Regions from separate parts of the Homo sapiens genome. Here regions 1, 3 and 4 are each linked to region 2. Evidence: fine-mapped expression QTL. A gene starts in region 2. Each other region holds a variant in brackets. All regions are shown on one strand. Distances are from middle to middle.

Region 1 (5,000 bases), 21 kb after region 2:
ACAGGTGCCTGGGCATGGTGGCTGAAGCTTGTAATCCCAGCACTTTGGGAGGCTGAGGCAGATGCATCACTTGAAGTCAGGGGTTCGAGACCAGTCTGGCCAACATGGTGAAAACCCGTCTCTACATTTAAAAATACAAAAATTAGCCGGGCATGGTGGCATGCGCCTGTAGTTCCAGCTACTCAGGAGGCTAAGGCAGGAGAATCGCTTGATCGCTTGAACTCAGCAGGCGGAGGTTGCAGTGAGTCAATATCACGCCACTGCACTCCAGCCTGGGCGAAAGAGCGAGAGTCCGTCTCCAAAAAAAAAAAAAAAATCCTGTCTAGCTGGGCGTGGTAGTCTTGCTTGGGAGGCTGAGAAGCAAGAGGATCGCTTGAGTCCAGGATTTGGAGGCTGCAGTGAGCTATGATTGCACTACTGCATTCCAGCCCGGGCAACAGAGCAAGCCCCTAGCTCAAAAAAAATAAAAGAGGTGGGCAGAGGCCCATCCAGCTGAGACATGAAGGGTTCCCCAGGAACTAGAACCTTCAACCGACGCCCAGGTCATCCACTGGTAGCAGGTCTGGAATGTGTCTAGAAGCTGGGGTGTAGAGCTTTCAGGTGCGGCTCCCCGCTATGATGTCAGCAGTCAGTTGACGTCAGCCCCGCCCTCCCCCATGGCGCCCTGTCTCACCGACACTTGAAGTCACAGGAGCCGGCAGCCAGCAGCACATTGTTGGGGTGCCAGTCCAGGCTGAGGACGGTGGAGCGGATGGGCTTCTTGATGTGCTTGCAAACCCACCTGGGAACGGTGGTCAGGCAGACAGGGAGAGAGGGACAGGCAGGTGGGACTCATGGACCTCAGCACCAGGGACTCCAGGCTCCCACTGCTCCCTGCAGCCCACCAAAGACCCAGGAGAGAGGCGACTGGGCATTGCCAGCCCACAAGGCCGTCAGGGCCCTGGGGCGGCAGGGATGTGCTGTGTCGCTTCTGGAGTGGGAACTCTGTGCCCTCTATCCTTTAGGCCACACAGTCACCCTCAGAGCAGGCTCAGCAAAGTGATGCCATCACCAGAGGTCACACAACTACTAACTGGCCATGGTGGGATGCAAATTTGGGTCTCTCAGATGCTCCTGGCTGGCCTCTGCCCTCAGCCATGCAGGGGAGATTAAAAACTAAGACGTGGACTGGCAATCATGGCTCACACCTGTAGTCTCAGCACTTTGGGAGGCTGAGGTGGGAAGATTGCTTGAGGCCAGGAGTTCAAGACCAGCCTGGACAACGTGACAAGACCCTATCTCTACAAAATAAATAAATAAATGATTTGGGCCTGTAGTCCGAGCTACTCAGGAGGCTGAAGTGGTAGGATTACTTGAGCTCAGGAGGCTGAGGCTGCAGTGAGCTATGATCACAACACTGCACTCCAGCCTGAGCGACAGAGCAAGACCTTGTCTCAAAAATATATATATGGCCGGGCGCAGTGGTTCACGCCTGTAATCCCAGCACTTTGGGAGGCGGAGGCAGGAGGACCACCTGAGGTCAGGAGTTCAAGACCAGCCTGACCAACATGGAGAAACCCCATCTCTACTAAAAAATACAAAATTAGCCTGGCGTGGTGGTGCGTGCCTGTAGTCCCAGCTACTCAGTAGGCTGAGGCAGGAGAATTGCTTGAACCTGGGAGGCAGAGGTTGCGGTGAGCTGAGATTGTGCCACTGCACTCCAGCCTGGACGACAGAGCAAGACTGTGTCTCAAAAAAAAAAAAAAAAAAAAAATTGGCTGGGCACGGTGGCTCACGCCTGTAATCCCAACACTTTGGGAGGCCGAGGCGGGTGGATCATGAGGTCAGAAGTTCTAGACCAACCTGGCCAAGATGGTGAAACCCCATCTCTACTAAAAATATAAAAATTATCCGGGCATGGTAGCAGGTGCCTGTAATCCCAGCTACTTGGGAGGCTGAGGCAGAGAACTGCTCGAACCCGGCAGGCAGAGGCTGCCGTGAGCCAAGATCGTGCCACTGCACTCCAGCCTGGGTGACAGAGTGAGACTCCATCTGAAAAAAAAAAAAGGAACAAGATGTGGCTGCGAGCTCGTGAGTGGTGCCTTGAGAAAGTGACTGCTACAGGGCCTTTGCTAATCTGTAAAGTGGGGACAGTGACCGATGCCCAGTCCACGGAGCTGCAGGGAAGTCAGGACTAATGTGTGTGCAGGGCTTAGTGAGGTGCCCCCAGATGTGTTTCTGGTGTGGTGGGTGTCACTGGCAGTGAGAACATCCGGACGCTGCAGAGAGGCCCTTGCCTCATGAATGAGGCCCAGAGAGGAGAGGATGGACTCCCCCAGGGTGATGGGAACAGGGGTCCTGACATCCCATTTGGTGCTTCCCGGGGACACTCTAGTCCTGCCCCCGGTCCCTAACAGCCCACTCTGGCCCTGCCTAGGTACCCACCAGTCATTCTCCTGCTCGAAATAACAGATGGAGATCACACGAGAGCCGCTGCCCACAGCAAACTTGTTCTCGTTGGGGGCCCAGCGCACGCAGCGGGCAGCCCGGTTGATCCGCAGGATGACCAGCGTGGGCTTCCATGTGCGGCCCTTCAGCGTCCACACGTAGGCGTTGCGGTCTGTGCCGCAGGTCACAATACGGTTACTCTCGGGGGCCCAGTCGATGCCTGTGGGGGGATGGAGGGAACACAGGAGGCTGATGACACTCAGGCAGAGGTGGCTGTATGGTGGCCACATGGGAGAGGCTGAAAGGCCACCATCCAGGTGGAAGCTGTATCTGCCCAGCAGGCACTTTTTTTTTTTTTTGAAACAGAGTCTCGCTCTGTCACCCAGGCTGGAGTGCAGTGGCATGATCTCAGCTCACTGCAGCCTCTGCCTCCCAGGTTCAAGCAATCCTCGTGCCTCAGCCTCCTGAGTAGCCGGGACTACAGG[T/C]GTGTACCACCAATCTTTTTTTTTTTTTTTTTTTTTTGAGACAGAGTCTCGCTCAGCCGCCCAAGCTGGAGTGCACTGGCACGATCTCAGCTCACTGGAACCACCATCTTCCGGGTTCAAGCAATTCTCACATATCAGCCTCCCAAGTAGCTGGGATTACAGGCACCCGCCATCATGCCTGGCTAATTTTTGTATTTTAGTAGAGATGAGGTTTCACCATGTTGACCAGGCTGGTCTTGAACTCCTGACCTCAGGTGATCCGCCCGCCTCCGCCTCCCAAAGTGCTGGGAGTACAGGCGCAAGCCACCGCACCCGGCCTCTTTCTTTCTTTGTTTTTATTGCGACACAGTCTCGCTCTGCCATCCAGGCTGGAGTGCAGTGGTGCAATCTCAGCTCACTTCAACCTCCGCCTCCTGGGTTCAAGCGATTCTTCTGCCTCAGCCTCCAGAGTATCTGGGACTACAGGTGCGTGCCACCACACCCGGCTAATTTCTGTATTTTTCAACATTTAGTCATGTTGGCCAGGATGGTCTCGAACTCCTGACCTCAAGCGATCCACTCGCCTTGGCCTCCTGAAGTGCTGGGATTACAGGCATGAGCCACTGCACCCGGCCCAGCAAGCACTTTTTACTGAGATCCAGTGCTTATTTAGAGTGACACCAGGGGGCACTCCTAGAGCTTATGAGGGAGTGTCAGAGCCCTCCATGCTATCAGCAAACATGCTGGAGGGCAAAGCCAAGAGGCAGAAAAGATGGGTTCTTGGTCATGTGGAGCTGCTGGATCAAGCCTCTCCTGAAGCCCTCAACCCTGTGAGTTTTTGGTAACATGAGCCAACACAGTCCCCTTAAAATTGAAGCCAGTTTGAATCCGGGTTTCACGGTGAGTGGGCAGATGCTCCACAATGAGTGGCCATGCCCTGCCTTGCACCACCCCCCCAACCCACCACCTCCTTTCAGGACGGTGGTCCCAGCCACCCTGACATACCTGTCACCTGCCCGTTGTGCTCCTTGAGCTCGTGCACCTTGGTCCATTTGGCACCGCTCTTTTCATAGATATGCACCTCATGGTTGTTGGGGCAGATGGCAATCTCTGAAGGGGAGATGGAGGGAGATTGAGGGGCCCTCTCCATGACTGCCCTCTGCCAGGACACACTACACAGTGCACCTAGGCAACAACACCTCACCTTTCATGACTCAGTCTCTCCTCTTCTGCCTTGCAGGGGCCCCCTGAAGTCCTTCAGGCCCTGCTAGGCCACCCTGTCTTCTCCTGGAACTGGCTGTCCTTTACTCGCAGCAATGAACCCTGGGACCTCTCCCCACCCTATTGCTCTGGCCAACCAGGAACCCTTCGCTGCTCCTGCTGACACCTCAGGGCCCCTGCACCTGCCAGCCCCTCCCCAGCTGGGGCACAGTTCCCTTCCTCTCCCCCTCTGGGTCTCTGGGTAAATGTCAAAATGTCATCTCCTCCGAAAGGCTTTTTCTTGGTCACTTTTTCTTTCTTTCTTTCTCTCTTTTTTTTTTTTTGAGACAGAGTCTCGCTTTGTTGCCCAGGCTGGAGTGCAGTGGTGCAATCTCGACTCACTGCAACCTCCGCCTCCTGGGTTCAAGCAATTCTCGTGCCTCAGCCCCCCGAGTAGCTGGGATTACAGACACCCACCACCACGCCCAGGTAATTTTTGTATTTTTAGTAGAGACAGGGTTTCACCATGTTGCCCAAGCTGGTCTGGAACTCCTGACCTCAAGTGATCCACCCACCTCAGCCTCCCAAAGTGCCGGGATTACAGGCATGAGCTACCGCAACTGGCCCATTCCCTCCTTAAACTTTAACCCAGGAGGCCCCTGGTCAGCTGGAAGACCCAGGGGTGAGGCCAGGGGACAGCCACATGGAGCCCATGGTCCGGGGGCCTGGCTGCTCCAGAGTCCCCATGTGTGCTCTGGCTGGTCCCCATCCCAGGAGGTGGAAGCAGCCACCCACCGGCCCCCAGCAAGCACTCACGGGTGCGGTCCTTGTTCCAGGCGTGGCAGCTGATGGGCTCCACCAGGAAGCTGTGGTAGGCCATGGCGGCTTGGCTCCTGTGCCCGAGAGAGG
Region 2 (5,367 bases):
GACAGCATAGGACACGGGTTCACAAAGCAGGATCACACGCCATTTACAAGGAAGTGACAGAAAACAGATGCGGCAAAGACTAATCGATGATACTGAAAAGGAATAGCACTTCCAAGTAAATATATTTTGTATGATTTTAAATATATATCTAACCAAAATAGTAAATAACTATAGGTAGACTATTTGATCTATATTTCATAACCTTTTATATTCGAGTTGGCAAAAACAAAAACAAAAAAAAACACCTTTTCTGAGGACCTTTTCATTAATGTTATCTTATTTTCGGGCACTTACAGTATTTCCCCAAGTTCATAAGCAAACACAACATGTCAGTGTTAGTAGACCACTCTCTTTTTATATTTGCATTTATGCCTGTCCCCTGGGGGCATCTAAGCCTGTGACCCTTGGACCCAGCCCACCCAGACAGGAACTCCCCTACTCACCTTCTCTCATCTTTTGATCTAATTCATCCAGTGTTGGCTCAATCAACTCCCAGCCATCTGGGGGTGCTTTCCGGCTTCTTTTGACTTTAGGCATTTTCCTTCCACAGGATAATCTGCAAAGATCTGGGGGAAAAAAATGAATTGGTTTCTGAGTCTCAAATCCCCAAAGGCCTTTGCCAGCCATTATTTCGGTACAGGCTGACTTCCTTGAGTCAGCATAGGGTCACAGCTATGGGACAGGGCTCAGCACCCAGACTGTGTTCAAATCCTGGCTCTGCTACTTACCCGCTGTGATCTTCAGAAAGGTACTTAACCTTCCTAAGCCTCTGTTTCCTCATCTGTAAAATGGGGATAATGGAAGCTACCTTATGTGGTCATTGCAAAGACTTCATTAGAATTGTATCTATCATGCCTGGTGTATAATGTGTGCCTAAGAGACATTTGCTGTTGTCATTAGCTAACTTCAACTAAAAGCTTAACCCTATACTGGATGTTGGGAACACAGAACAAAAGTTAAGCCTTTGCCCCTTAGAAGGTGACATTTTAGCAAAGAGACAGACAAGAGAAAAAGCAATTACAATAGAGTATAAGGAGGGCTGTGACTCGGGGAGCCATGGGGGTGAGTATTTAAAAAGGCAAAGATGGAAGGTCAGGCACGGTGGCTCATGCCTGTAATTCTGGTCTTGGCCAGCACCTTGGGAGGCTGAGATGGGAGGATCACTTGAGCCCAGGAATTTGAGACCAGTCTGAGCAATGAGGTGAAACCCTATCTCTACCAAAAAAAAAAAAAAATCAAAAAAATTAACTGAGCATGGTGGTGGGTGCCTGTGGTCTGAGCTACACGGAAGGCTGAGGCAAGAGGATCACTTGAGCCCAGGAGGTTGAAAGTCTTCAGTTAGCCATGTTCACACTACTGCACTCCAGCCTAAGTGACGGAGTGAGACCATGTCTCAATAACAAACAAAACAAAACAAAACATAAAATAAAAAGGGAAAGATGACTGTAAAATCAAAGTACCTTAGGATGTGCTTTCCAAGAGTATAGACAGCAGAAAGATCTCTCGTCTCTGCAGTTGCAGGCTTGGATTCTTGTTCAGCTCTAAAAAATTATTCTGTGACTTTCAGGTCACCTTCCCTCTCTGGTCCTGTTTCTTCTGTAAAATGAGGGCAGTGGATTGGCTGATTGCCAAGGTCTCTTTCACACCAAACAACATATTACATAAAGTCAGGTAGTTCCCATACAAGAGGCCGATCCCAATCTAAATAGCAAAGCGTTTTTCAAACCACACAGCATTTCCTTGCTGCCAGAGAGAACCCAGGTTAAGTATTTACCTTTCAGCATAACAGATTCATCTCTCTCAAATTCATTCAGTCACTCCCTTCTGTACTGACACTTTACAAAGACCCACCCCCCCCCCGCCCACAGAGCCTCCTCTCATGAACTCTCTAAAACAACCATATAGAGGAGGAATCAAACTCTATAAGGTAGAATCAGGGTCACACAGCTGAGAATTTGCAAAACCTGACTCTGGAGGGCTCCTGACTCCCAAATCAGTGGTCTTCGCACTAGTCTCCCCTACGCTGAAGCTAAAAATAGGTGAATTCTGGTCTCGGCCCCAAGGCGCATAGTCTGTGACAAGAGAATGATCGCTTTTCTACGACCCAGGGAAATTCGAGGGCCCTGATCCAGCCTGGAAGTCAGAAGAGGCCTCTCGGAGGTGAAAATGGTAGGCGGTAACCAGATCGAGGAGAAAGAGGACGTAGGAGGTAATCAGATCGAGAAGAAAGATGTGCCGGGAGGTGTAAGAGAGATTGGGGCGCTAGGGGAAGGAGGCGAGGAGGAGCGAAGGAAGATAGTGCAGGATTGTAGGGAAAACTCATAAAAAGGACAGCATCTGAACCCAGCTTAGAAAAACAATCAGAACACAGAAGACGTTCCTACCAGAGGAAACGGCGCGAGAATCCTAGAGGAAAACCCCCAAATCTACCGTCCCCTCAGAAGAACGAACGTGGCGCCGCCTCCTCTCGGGAGCTCTCTCCGGCCTCAAGGTCCAAAGCCCGAACACATCCCAGTGGCTGGCTGAGAGTCCAGCCACTCATATCTCCCTCCAGGACGGTGCAGACCACCGGTCTCCCGCCTCAGCCGTTGCCAAGGTAATCGAGAACAGAGGGAAAACACATACCGGAAGCTCCTGGAGCTTGGGTAGCTGCTTCTCGACAGAAGGCTTCCGCTCTTCAGGCGATCTCTAAGGCATGAGGTCCTTGCGGAGCCCCGCCCTACCCGCGCGGAGATTGCGTCATCTTAGGTGTCCTCAGCAATGCCTGTATAGAATTCCAGAGCCGCTGTTGCCATTTGCCCTCACTTCCGGTGGGTGGCAGGCAGGGCCACGCGTCTTCCCGAACGGAGAGACTAGGGGCGTTGTTGCCTGGCAGCAGACGGGCAAGCCTGGACTTAGGCGGCGCGCAGGACGGTCCGACTTCGTGCGGAGGCCTCCCTGAGGTCCGGGTCCTTGCGGCCACTGCGGCCACTGAAGCGGCGGCGGCGGCTGGCCCAGGAGGAAGAAGTCGAGCCCAAGCTATTTCCGGTTCCGGTGTCAGTTCGAGGCGCCGCCGCCGCCGCCGCAGCCGCCGGAGCCGCAATGCCTAAAGGAGGTGAGGGGCGGGCGCCGGTGGCCCGCAGGCCTGGAGGGGCGGCCCAGGTCCGGCTTCCGCTGTCCCCTCAGCCCGTGCGCGTCTCTGAGAGCAGCGCAGAGGGAGGCTGTCCGCACCGGCTGAGAGCCAGGCCTGGGCCTCGACGCCCAATTGTCCCGATGGGGAAACTGAGGACTGTGGTGTCCCAGAGTCACTCCGTCAGTGGTCTGAGGAGTTTCGGAAGCTCTGGGTCCTCGCCGGCCTAGAAAGCCGGATCTAGGATGCGCTTCTCCGGGTCTAGGGGTTCTGGAATTTATCCCACTCTTTGGCTGGCTAGGAACTGAGTCACCGCGTCCCGCGCTTGTGCCGGGCCCGCCTGCCTCTCGCGTAAAACGTGGGCTTTTTCTGGCTTCGGTTCAGCCAGGCCTGCCTAGGAGGACTTAAGGAGATGCCCATGAGCCTTCCAGACCTGGTTTCGACTCCCCCGTTCGGTAGCGGCTCGGTGTGTTCCTTTGAGCCAGTCGCTCCACCTCCTGTGTCTCCGTTTTCTCATTTGCCAATGGGAATAACGATTGTACCTACCTCTTAGTACTGTTGGGAGGCTTCAACTAGGTAATCCACGTGGAGTGCGCAGTACAGTGCCAGGCAGTCGTTAAAAGTGCCCAGTGAAGCAGTAACTATTCTTATTTTTAAGGCTTTGCCAGCTCTTGATCTTGTAAGTAGGTTCATGACTGCCCAGTCCATTGTAGCCCGTCCTCTATCTTCTAGCCCGTTCTCTATCCTGTTTCCCCCTTTAGAATCGATAGTCCCCAGTTTGAATCCCAGCTATGTCACGTCTAATTCTGTGGCCCTGAACAAGTTAACCTCTTCCTCATCTGAAACACTGGGCTAATCCTTAGCTTGTTGAATTGGGGCCGGGGTGGTAAAATTATAGCGCTCATAAAGTGCCTGGCCACCTCCTGGCACAGAACAAATATATTTGTGTTGGTAGCTCATGTGTTATATTGGTTAATGCACTCAACCCACAGAAACATCTGCCTGTAGCGTTTTCAAACCTAAATCGCTTCCTGACTCCAGAGATAATTGGGCATTACAGAGCTAAATGTGTTTAAACCTAGCTCTCTACTGATTTATTCTGTGGCTGGAAAAGTCTCTCTGCTATTGTTCCCCAGTCCCTTCATCTGTAAAAGGAGGTTGCTGAATGAGCCATCCTCCCTCCGAAGTTTTACTTAATGGATACTTTGGGTAAAGGTTGGAGGTTACAACGATAAAACCTTAAATATGAATTCATAGCTAAATGGTCTTTGGGCTTGTGAAAAGCTTTTTGGGGTAGACAAGGTTTACATTTTCTTGGGTTAATCTGAAAACCACAAAAAACCGTGAAGGTGTTAAAAGTATCAAACTCCCTAAGAGCAAAGGACCAACGCTTGTTTCCATTATGTTAAGTGCAAATCGTTTTTTAAAGTCTTGAAGAGTCTACTATAAAATTACTGTGGACCAAGCTAAGGTCAGGGTCCCATAGCCAAGTGCATGAGAGGAGAGCCTATAGTAATCAATTTTGAGTTGTTACTGTTGCCTGGTGTATTAAGAGAGCAAGAAAGGGTGTTGGTTTTTTTCTTGGCACACTTGCTCTCTCACAATAGGACTTTAATAAGCATAGACTTAGACACCCCTGGGAACCTAGGTAGTCATTAAAAATGGGTGGTGTGATCTTTAGCAGCCCAATTATGGCTTTGCAGCTGCTGTAAGGAATCAGAGGAGGCCAGTATCTCTGCTACCGCCTCTGGAGTGCAGAGCAACTCTGGCTGATTACAGAGTCTCTGCTCACAGAGACAGACTATGGAAATCAGGTGGGCCTCAGCTTCCTGTGTGGAAGTTGAGGCCACAGCCACCCTTGCATACTTGGGGACCAGCAGAGGGGGATGCCACCTTGCTTTAAAACTGGCTGATGGCTTAAGCAAGGGTCAGCCTGGTGTTCTGGCTGAAGAGGGTCAGACTATAAAACTGACACTTTAACTGCTAGTCACATTTTTAACTTTTAGACTGTGTAGTCAGGTTTGTTTTCATCTGTACTTTGCCAGTCATTTCTTAGTCTAAGCACAAAGTTTTTGCCTGTAGGTTTGGGTTTCTTTTTTTTCCCTTAAGTATTCTCTTTTTGCCATACTACTAAGGTGAACACAAGGTATTTTATTGTGTTTCCAACATCTGCAGTAAATTGCTTATGTGCTCAGTGGTGCTTTTGTTGTTGTTTTTCCACCAAATACTAGATTAGAGGGAAAAGTAACGAACAGCGA
Region 3 (5,367 bases), 69 kb after region 2:
TTTTTTTTGAGACAGGGTCTCACTTTATCACCTAGACTGGAGTGCAGTGGCGTGATCATAGCTCACTGCAGCCTCAACCTCCCAGGCTCATGAAATCCTCCTACCTCAGCCTCCTGAGTAGCTGAGACTACAGGTGCAAGCCACCATGCCTGGCTAATTTTTTGTAGAGATGGGGTTTCACCATGTTGCCCAGGCTGGTCTTGAACTCCAGGGCTCAAGTGATCTGCCTGCCTCAGCCTCCCAAAGCACTGGGATTACAGGTGTAAGCCTGATCAATATTTATTATTATTAAAAAGAAAAATCATTATCTTTTAGAGATGCAAACTGAAATATGAAACAATATAATGTCTGGGATGTGCTTCAAATTAGTACAGGAAAGGAGAAAGTGAATTGAGAAGAACAAGATTGGCTGTTACTCGATAATCGTGGAATGCAGGTGATGGGTATAAAAGGCTCATTATACTATTCCACTTTTTTAAAAATCTGTTTAAAATTTTCCATGGTAACAAAACATGTTTCTTAAAAATATTTAATACAAAAGAATAAAACCTCAGAACTCTGATATCCCTGATGTTTGCCACACTTCTTTTCTTTGTAGTATGGACTAGTTTTTTCTTCTAGAATGCTTCAGAAAATATTTTTTTCCCCTAAAATTACTATCTTTCTGAGAAAATATGTCTGATCCTTGATCTCCTGCCCCAGAGTTATATTTAGATTTTTCCAACAAGTTATTTCAGATCTAAAAAATGCCATGTGAGCAGCTAGACAGAAAACAGGCCCAAGTTCAAAGGACCCCAAAAGAGAAGTAGAGGGAAAAAAACACATAACTAAATATTTCACATTTTTGGCGATTTCTTTGGTCTTTCATCTTTGCCTTTTCTCATTTAAAAGTATTTCCTTTTAAATTCTAAAATTCCAATTAATTTTTTTTTTTTTTTTTTTTGAGACAGAGTTTTGCTCTTATTGTCCAGGCTGGCGTGCAATGGCACAATCTCGGCTCACCGTAACCTCCGCCTCCCAGGTTCAAGCAATTCTCCTGCCTCAGCCTCCTGAGTAGCTGGGATTACAGGCATGTGCCACCACGCCCAGCTAATTTTGTGTATTTTTAGTAGAAATGGGGTTTCTCCATGTTGGTCACGCTGGTCTCGAACTCCCGACCTCAGGTGATCAGCCCGCCTCAGCCTCCCAAAGGGCTGGGATTACAGGCTTGAGCCACTGCACCCAGCCTAATTTTTTATTTTTTGGAGACAGAGTCTTGCTGTATACCCCAGGCTGGAGTGCAGTGGCGCCATCTCAGCTCACCGCAACCTCTGCCTCCTGGGTTCAAGCGATTCTCATGTCTCAGCCTCCTGAGTAGCTGGGATTACAGGTGCTTGCCACCACACCCGGCTAATTTTTGTATTTTTAGTAGAGACAGGGTTTCACCATGTTGGCCAGGTTGGTCTCAAACTCCCGACCTCAGGTGATCCACCCGCCTCAGCCTCCTAAAGTGTTGGGATTACAGGTGTGAGCCACCGCACCCGGCCTAAAATTCCAATTTAAAATATGAGTATTCTTATTCTTAGGCTATGAGGCCACTGGCAAAGGAACTTAAGAAAATAGGCCAAACCTAATAGAAATAAGATTGTGGGAAAGGAACAGCAACAAAAATAGAAACGCTGTCTTTGGTGCTGCTTTGGAAATATACTCAGCTACTGGTGCTCAAGAGCATTATTTATAAATCACTGGTCAAAGCAAGGGTGGCCATGAGTTATTGCTGAAGAATGCAGGACAACTTCTGTAAAGGATGTAGAATAGCAAAACATGCTAAGTTCTCTCATTTGGGTAAGGATATCTCTAAGCTTATCAGTATTTTAGGTGATTAGAGGTAAAATTGCAGAGTCCAACTAAAAGAATAAAAAATCAGCCTGGGCGACATGGTGAAATCTATCTTTACAAAAAAATTAGCCGGGTGTGCTGGCGCACACCTTTAGTACCAGCTCCTGGGGAGGCTGAGATGGGAGGATCACTTGAGCCCAAGAGGTTGAGGCTGTAGTGAGCCATGATCCTTCTAGCCTGGGTGACTGGGCAACAGAGCCAAGACCCTGTCTAAAAGAAAAAAAAGGGTCACACCTGTAATCTCAACACTTTGGGAGGCCAAGGCAGGCAGATCACTTGATGTCAGGAGCTTGAGACCAGCCTGTCCAATGTGGTGAAATCCCACATCTACTAAAAATACAAAAATTAGCTGGGCATTGTGGCAGGCACCTGTAATCCCAGCAACTCGGGAGGCTGAGGCGGGAGAATTGCTTGAACCTGGAAGGCAGAGGCTGCAGTCAGCCAAGACTGTACCACTCCATTTCAGCCTAGACGACAGAATGACACTCCATCTCAAAACAAACAAACAAACAAACAAACAAA[CAAAA/A]ACAGAAAAAAGACAAAAACTCAATGAAAAAATGATCAGGATTTATGAACAGGACAGTCACAAGGAAGAAAAACTCTCATGGCTAATACACGTCTGAAAGTATCTCAACTTTTCCATGAATCAGGAAAATACAACTTACAGAAGCAATGGATGAACCTTTCATGCATTCTTCAGTCTTCCCATCTCAAGTATGTGGCGGGGTGTGGGAAAATGAGCACTCTCATACAGGACAGGTGGGAATGATGGCAATCTGATGAGGCCTGGCAACACTGCACTGCAGATATGCATACCCTGTGGTATTAACACATCTACCATCTACAAACATTCACACATACGTACAGAAATCAAGGGATGCCTATTCAGCACTTTCATGTAATATGGAAAAATTGAAACAACCTAAATGTTCTTCAGTGGAGGAAGGAGTAAATAAATGAGGTATAAAATGCTAAAGAGTGGTTAAAAGGAATAAACTTGATCTAGACAGCAACATAGATGGATCTCAGAAACAATCATGAATGCAAAAGCAGGCTGCCGGAGATGCATAGTATCATGCCATTTATGTAGCTTCAAAAAAATACTAGTCAATAGTCCTAAAGATTGTTTTCTCTTTTTTCTTTTTTTTGAGATGAGGGTCTTGCTGTGTCACCCAGGCTGGAGTGCAGTGGTGTGATCACAGCTCACTGCAGCCTTGATCTTGTCTCAAGTGGTCCTCCCACTTCAGCCTCACAAGTAGCTGGGACCACAGGTGCATGCCACCACACCGTGCTAACGGGGGGTCTCATTATGTTGCCCAGGCTAGTCTTGGATTCCTGGGTTCAAGCGATCCTCCCGCCTCAGCCTCCCAAAGTGCTGGGATTACAGGTGTAAGCCACTGTGCTTGGCCTAAGCTTGTTTATGAATATGTATGTATGTAAATGTATTAAAAATGGACTGGAATGGTGTCATAGCAAATTATAGTCTGCCTTCCAGGGGAGAGGAATAGGACTGCTGGTGAGAGGTGACTTTACCATCATCAAGAATAATATTCCTTATTATTACATCCTTTTTCCTTAAGTTTCCTGATACAGGAAAAGAAATTACTTCCTGGCACAGGGAAAAAGTTGGTAATTCTGGTGGCGATTATCTGATATGGGTGTTTATTATATTACTTTGTTCTTCTCAATATTCTGGAAAGTCTTCCTTACCCTAAAAACACAAAGGAAACTTTTGGAAGACACTTGGAAATAGTTTGGCGCACGTTTTCGTGTTGTCTACATTTTCATGTTATCTAGCTTTCAATTTCACGTCTCATCTCCTAATTTTAGCTCTTTAGTCCTCAGGGTAGGTTCAGTGCTTTCCATAGCAACGGTAGAGTGCTGGGTACCAGCTGGGGCCACAAGAAGCACTTAACAACTAAGATCATTATAGTATTTTCTTTAAAATTTTAAGGAAATTCAGTAAGTGCTGCATGACTTTAAATATTACGGGCCAGGTGCGGTAGCTCACTCCTGTAATCCCAGCACATTGGGAGGCCGAGGCAGGAGGATCACGAGGTCAGGGGTTCGAGACCAGCTTGACCAACATGGTGAAACCTATCTCTACTAAAAATAAAAAAAATTAGCCAGGCATAGTGGCGCGTGCCTGTAATCCCAGCTACTCAGGAAGCTGAGGCAGGAAAATTACTTGAACCCGGGAGGTGGAGGTTGCAGTGAGCCGAGATTGCGCCATTGCAGTCCAGCCTGGGCGAAAGAGTGATACTCCTTCTCAAAAAAAAAAAAAAAAAAAAAAAAATTATGGCCACCTGGGTTTATTAGGCTCTTTATCTAAAAGGAAGAGTGCCTGATTTGGAAATATCACACTAAGCTCACGGCTATCTTCCTTTACCTGTGATGTGTCCGTTGTGCTCCTTGAGTTCATGAGCTTTCACCCACTGGCTCCCGTTCTTCTTATAGATGTGCACTTCGTGATTATTGGGACTGAGGGCAATCTCTGGAGACACAAGTCAAACAACAGTTAACACCTGAACTTGCAATTGTCACCAAAAAGGGGACATGTCACAGTTGTTTTAAAAGCAGACTATAGTAAGGAAAAGAAAAACTTTTGAAAAAGTAGTTCCCAAATTCACCTCTGAATAATTCCATTTTTTTTTTAACCTTTACTTGGACCCTGTATTTTATAATGCTTTACAGGAAAACTAAGATTAAAATTCATTTTCCCAGAGACACGTACAACTGTCAATTAATGATTCTAACCAGCGAAAAATAAACAATGTTAGTGTACTTAGCTAAAATAACTTTAGATCAGGGTAAAAATGTTTGACAGTTTCATTCACCTGTGCAATATTATTAGAGCTAAATCTAAATTTCTGTTTGTCTTTTTGAAACACTGAAAATAGGTTATGGACTTCCATTACTGCTATCATGGACCCAGGCTGGAACCACTAGTTTATATTAAAAAAATTGATTCTGCTGATAAACTATACTGAAATTCTCCTTTACAATAAAGCCAATATAAATCACAATACTTTGTTTTCAAGAGTAATTTCCTGAACTAATCCAAAATATAATACACAAAACGGACTTTTTAAAAACTCATACAGGTTGAGCATCCCTAATCTGAAAAGCTGAAATCTGACATGCTCCCAAATCCAAAACTTTTTGAGTATCAACATGACACTCAAAAGGTCATGCTCAAACGCAATGCTCTCTGGAACATTTTGGATTTCAGATTTTCATTTTTTTCTTTTTTGAGATAGTGTTTTGCTCTCGTTGCCCAGGCTGGAGTGCAATGGCGCGATCTTGGCTTACTGCAACCTCCGCCTCCCAGGTTCAAGCGATTCTCCTGCCTTAGCCTCCGAAGTAGCTGGGATTACAGGCATGCGCCACCACGCCCAGCTAATTTTGTATTTTTAGTAGAGACAGGGTTTCTCCATGTTGGTCAGGCTGGTTTCAAACTCCCGACCTCAGGTAATCTGCCTGCCTTGG
Region 4 (5,367 bases), 51 kb after region 2:
CCCGGTTCAAGCAATTCTCCTGCCTCAGCCTGCCGAGTAGCTGGGATTACAGGTGTGTACCACCATGCCAAGCTAATTTTTGTATTTTTTAGTAGAGATGGGGTTTTGCCATGTTGGCAAGGCTGGTCTCGAACTCCTGACCTCAAGTGATCTGCCTGCCTCAGCCTCCCAAAGTGCTGGGATTAAAGGTGTAAGCCATCATGCCCAGCCTCTCCTCTAGACCTTAAAAATCAAACTTTCAGGCCAGGCACGGTAGCTTACGCCTGTAATTCCAGCAATTTGGGAGGCTGAGGTGGTTGGATCACCTGAGGTCAGGAGTTTGAAACCAGGATGGCCAACAGGGTGAAACTCCGTCTCTACTAAAAATACAAAAAATTAGCCAGGTGTGGTGGCACACGCCTGTAATCCCAGCTTCTTGGGAAGCTGAGGCAGGAGAATTGCTTGAACCCGGGAGGCAGAGGTTGCAGTGAGCCGAGATTGTGGCATTGCACTCCAGCCTGGGCAACAGAGTGAGACTCTGTCTCAAAAAAAAAAAAAAAAATTAAACTTTCTGGACAAAACACAATTCTGTTGTCTTACATAATTACATATACCTGATGAAAACCCAGTCGAGACACTCCTCAGCTTTGTCATCATGATGATAAGAAATTCTGTTCCTTTAATTAAATAATCTTCTTATTTGTATCCATTACTTGAAACGACAGCTACAGTTACCTTTTCCAACAGGCTGTAACTTCGCTTTCTGTTATGTGTGCACTACTGTGGGAACGCAGCATTCAGGAATGTCTCCTTTTGTTCTCGAGTAGCTGAGAAAGGGTACCCTAGGAAGCAGCTGCCCTGAGGCCCCACCACCTCAGATTGCAACAAGGTCTGCACTGCTCCTGCTGGCTGCTGCCTTGTAATCTGCACCTTGAAGGACAGAATGACCAGGTGGTGGCGACTCCCTCCCTACCACGAGCTGGAAATGAGAGCCTGGCGGTCGGGAAGATACAGACTTCTTGCTGCACTTGTCCCTGAAAGAATGTCTGGGCCTGAGGGGCATAGAGCTTTTGTAGGAACCCAGTAAGGAAACAGCGAGGGGCAGGAAGGCACCTTGTCACCTGACCACCTCTCTACAGACGGCACCTACGTGATGCTATTCTGGTGCAGCGTCTCCAAGGCCGTGTTGCGGTCCTCAGTTGTGGCTCTCTTGTCCATGTTGCGGAAGCGTTCCATGGCAGACATGTTGCGTTGGATGCTCTGTTTTGGAATATCTAACTTGGAGACGAAGGTCAGGCAGCCGCGGTCATCGTAGTTAAAGAGCATTGGGCAGCAGTCATGGCCCTGAAACAAGACTCAGTCAGTCCCTGGAGGATGCACTGCCCACCGCCCACCTCCTTGGCAGAGTGTTCACCACGACAGGCCTCTCTTACTCTTTTTTTTTTTTTTTTTTGAGACCGAGTCTTGCTCTGTTGCCCTGGCTAGAGTGCAGTGGCACAATCTCAGGTCACCACAACCTCTGCTTCCCGGGTTCAAGTAATTCTCCTGCCTCAGCCTCCCAAGTAGCTGGGATTACAGGCGTCTGCCACCATGCCTGGCTAATTTTTGTGTTTTTAGTAGAGACGGGGTTTCACCATGTTGGCCAGGCTGGTCTTGAACTCCTGACCTCAAGTGAACCACCCGCCTTGGCCTCCCAAAGTGCTGGGACTACAGGCGTGAGCCATCGTGCCCCACCCCCTCTTACTCTTAAAAGTGAGCGGCCGGGCACGGTGGCTCACACCTGTAATCCCAGCACTTTAGGAGGCCAAGGTGGGCGGATCACGAGGTCAGGAGATTGAGACCATCCTGGCTAACATGGTGAAACCCCATCTCTACTAAAAATAAAAAAAATTAGCCCGGCGAGGTGGCGGGCGCCTGTAGTCCCAGCTACTCAGGACGCTGAGGCAGGAGAATGGCGTGAACCCGGGAGGCGGAGCTTGCAGTGAGCCAAAATTGCGCCACTGCCCTCCAGCCTGGGCGACAGAGCAAGACAGTCTCCAAAAAAAAAGTGACCTCTGAGGCCGGGCACGGTGGCTCATGCCCGCACTTTGGGAGGCCAAGGTGGGTGGATCACCTGAGGATGGGAGTTCGAGACCGGCCTGACCAACATGGAGAAACCCCGTCTCTTCTAAAAATACAAAATTAGCCAGGTATGGTGGCGCATGCCTATATTCCCAGTTCCTCGAGAGGCTGAGGCGGGAGAATCGCTTGAACCCGGGAGGCAGAGGTTGCGGTGAGTCAAGATCACCCATTGCACTCCAGCCTGGGCAACAAGAGCAAAACTCCATCTCAAAAAAAAAAAAAAAAAAAA[AAG/G]TGAGCTCTGTTTCTTCTAAAAAACTGTTCTGCTTTGTGCTAGGGTGACAGAGCACACATTGTTCCCTGTCTGAGCATCACATACAGTGCACCCCGAGGGAGAATGAAGAAAAATACTCACAGCAGCCACGACGCTGTTCTCTGAGACAAATGACACACTTAGGAGCGGCAGGAACTCTGTCTTCAGAGTCGAGACCCTGAACACAAGAACATGTGTTATCCCAAGATGCAACAGACTATTAGCTTCTTTACAGACACAGATGATCACAAAGGACCCATTCTCACAGGGGCTTCTGCAGTATCAATGGGCACTTATGTTGAAAAGGAGCCCCTGACCTCAACTTGCAGGCCTCTCAAGACAGGGGCAGCCCTGGGTTCCGGCTCTGCCTCCTTCTGAGGCCCTGCCCACTGACGACAAACTGGTTCCCAAAGCCCAGTCTTTGCATCACGCCCTTCCACCCCCAGCACAGCTCTAAAGGGATCACCCCCATGATCCCACGGTCCACTTTCCCGGGCCACTTCCGCCTAAAGTGGCTTCTCCCTGCTCTTAGCTCCTAGAGCTCTTCCTGTTACTATGACTTGGCAGCAGACACCTGTGCTAGGACCTTCTCCTTGCCTGTGCTCACCGGAGCTCCGAGAGGGCTGTGACCACACAGATCTGTGCTGACGGCCAGGCACTGTGTTAGGAGCTAGAGCTACCAAGATGAACCAAACGGTCTTAGCCAGGAGCTCACACTCGAATGGGCCATGTGTGTGTATGTGTGCCTGCAGGGACATGTGTGTGCATGTAGTTATTTGCTCTTGAATGTGGCAAAGAGATTACACAGATATGGCAGGCAGACACACTGGCTGATGAGTTAGGAGCACCTCACTTCATGCAAGAAACGATGCATTCAAAAGCTGACTGTGGCTGGGCATGGTGGCTCACACCTGTAATCTCAGCACTTTGAGGGGCTGAGGTGGAAGGATTGCTGGAGGCAGGAGTTTGAGATCAGCCTGGACAACATAGTGAGACCCAGTCTCTACGAAAAATTAAAAAAAAAAAAAAATTAGCCTAGAGTGGTGGTGCACGTCTGTGGCTCCAGCTGCTTGAGAGGCTGAGGTGGGAGGAGAACTTGAGCTCAGGAGTTCCAGCCTGGGCGACAGAGAGTGTCTCTCTAAATTAAAAAATAAAAAAAAGCTAACTGTATATGTCTCAGGACACCCTTCATAAAGTTGGCATTGAATTGAAGAACTAATGTGTCATCTTAAGCCCTTAGTGCGGTATACCTGACTTTTACTACATGAGATATTTATGTTGGAGGAGTGGAAAGGTGGAGCATGTAATCTGACTTGCAGGACTGGAAAAGGGAAAGAAGTCAGTACGAGGGTAGACAGGGACTTGTAATAAGTGTATGCTAAGAACTTACTGTGTCACAATAAACCATATAAAAATCAAGTAACACTGGCATCAAAATACAAAAGTATTATCAAGTATTAAAAGGCAAATTACCAAATGTATATAAAAATGTATAAAATAATCTTATTTCTGTTAAAAATGAAAAGATATATAAGTGCCTGTTTATGTAGGGAAATCTTCTGAAAGACTACATTTTATAATGGAAGGGACAATCTTTCTTTTTTTCTTTCTTTTTTTTGAGATGGAGTCTCGCTCTGTCGCCCAGCCTAGAGTGCAGTGGCGCAATCTCGGCTCACTGCAAGCTTTGCCTCCCAGGTTCACGCCATTCTCCTGCCTCAGCCTCCCGAGTAGCTGGGACTACAAGCGCCCGCCACCACGCCTGGCTAATTTTTGTATTTTTTGTAGAGACAGGGTTTCACCGTGTTAGCCAGGATGGTCTCGATCTCCTGACCTTGTGATCCGCCCGCCTCGGCCTCCCAAAGTGCTGGGATTACAGGTGTGAGCCACTGTGCCCAGTCTTTTTTTTTTTTTTGAGACAGAGTCTTCCTCTTGTTGCCCAGGCTGGAGTGCAGTGGTGCGATCTTGGCTCATTGCAACCTCTGCCTGCTGGGTTCAAGCAATTCTCCTGCCTCAGCCTCCTGAGTAGCTGGGATTACAGGTGCATGCCACCACACCTGGCTAATTTTTATACTTTTAGTAGAGGCGGGGTTTCTCCATGTTGGCCATGCTGGTCTCGAACTCCTTACCTGAGGTGATCCACCCGCCTCGGCCTCCCAAAGTGCTGGGATTACAGGCGTGAGCCACTGCACCCGGCCTGAGGGGATAATCTTTAAAAAAATATGTAAAACTAGCTAAAAAATGCACATTTAATCCTGTTAGGAAAAACATATCATGTCTGAAATATCATGCTGTTTACACTGGGTGACTCTTACTGACCTGACAGGGAGTAAAGGTCACCCAGTGTGATTGATTTTTGATACCCAAGTGGCCATGTCCATCACAAAACCTTTAATGGTGAGTTCCCTTTAGCTATCAATGGAAAAGGAACACCAGGGAAGAACAAAGATTTATAAAAGAAGAAGGATTCCAATCTTCTCTCTTCCTCCAACATATACTGAACAAAATGAACTCTGATGTCTGGCCAAGTACTTTATGGCTGAACAGACACGCCACTCACAAAGAAGCCACCGTAATTCGAGTCCTTCCAGCCACAGCAGAGAAGTGGCATCAATGCTTTTTAAGCCTTACTGAATGGAAGGCTCAAATTAATGAAGTCATCGTTCGCTGACTTCCCCCAGTAAGAATATATCTCCTATTTAATTTAAGGCCGGTGAACGGCACTTACATTTTGTAAGGAATTCAGAGTAACAGACTAAACTAGCCTTTTTTTTTTTGAGATGGAGTCTTGCTCTGTTGCCCAGGCTGGAGTGCAATGGCATGATCTCGGTTCACTGCAACCTTCACCTCCTGGGTTCAAGTGATTCTCCTTCCTCAGCCTCCCGAGTAGCTGGGACTATAGGCACCCGCCACCATGCTGGGCTAATTTTTGTATTTTTGTAGAGACAGGGTTTCACCATGTTGGCCAGGCTGCTCTCGAACTCCTGACCTCAAGTGATCCACCCACCTTGGCCTCCCAA

The links. PIP is the estimated chance that this variant, and not a neighbour inherited with it, causes the effect.
Region 1: its variant is fine-mapped to the expression of PDAP1 in whole blood (TOPMed, PIP 0.91).
Region 3: its variant is fine-mapped to the expression of PDAP1 in whole blood (INTERVAL, PIP above 0.99).
Region 4: its variant is fine-mapped to the expression of PDAP1 in whole blood (INTERVAL, PIP 0.96).

Annotation. Positions count from the first base shown.
Region 1 is chr7:99,385,686-99,390,685 of GRCh38, reverse strand. It overlaps ARPC1B (actin related protein 2/3 complex subunit 1B), which reads right to left. Exons shown (of 10, transcript NM_005720.4): 2 at 4,908-4,984; 3 at 3,897-4,001; 4 at 2,425-2,647; 5 at 674-781. The coding sequence starts at 4,971. Among named protein-coding and RNA genes, the nearest start is that of ARPC1B, 13 kb to the right of the region's middle. The variant T/C (reference allele first, on the strand shown) is at 2,913.
Region 2 is chr7:99,406,263-99,411,629 of GRCh38, reverse strand. It overlaps PDAP1 (PDGFA associated protein 1), which reads left to right and starts at 3,033. Exons shown (of 6, transcript NM_014891.7): 1 at 3,033-3,094. The coding sequence starts at 3,082. It overlaps BUD31 (BUD31 spliceosome associated protein), which reads right to left and starts at 2,661. Exons shown (of 6, transcript NM_003910.4): 1 at 2,385-2,661; 2 at 1,461-1,596; 3 at 444-566. The coding sequence starts at 537. It overlaps MIR12119 (microRNA 12119), which reads right to left and starts at 2,458; the gene lies at 2,366-2,458. RefSeq lists an enhancer at 2,605-2,994 and a silencer at 3,205-3,264.
Region 3 is chr7:99,337,186-99,342,552 of GRCh38, reverse strand. ARPC1A (actin related protein 2/3 complex subunit 1A) reads right to left here. Exons shown (of 10, transcript NM_006409.4): 3 at 4,268-4,372. Among named protein-coding and RNA genes, the nearest start is that of ARPC1A, 14 kb to the right of the region's middle. The variant CAAAA/A (reference allele first, on the strand shown) is at 2,401.
Region 4 is chr7:99,355,501-99,360,867 of GRCh38, reverse strand. It overlaps ARPC1A (actin related protein 2/3 complex subunit 1A), which reads right to left. Exons shown (of 10, transcript NM_006409.4): 7 at 2,453-2,528; 8 at 1,130-1,323. Among named protein-coding and RNA genes, the nearest start is that of ARPC1B, 17 kb to the left of the region's middle. RefSeq lists enhancers at 692-1,192, 2,386-2,886. The variant AAG/G (reference allele first, on the strand shown) is at 2,330.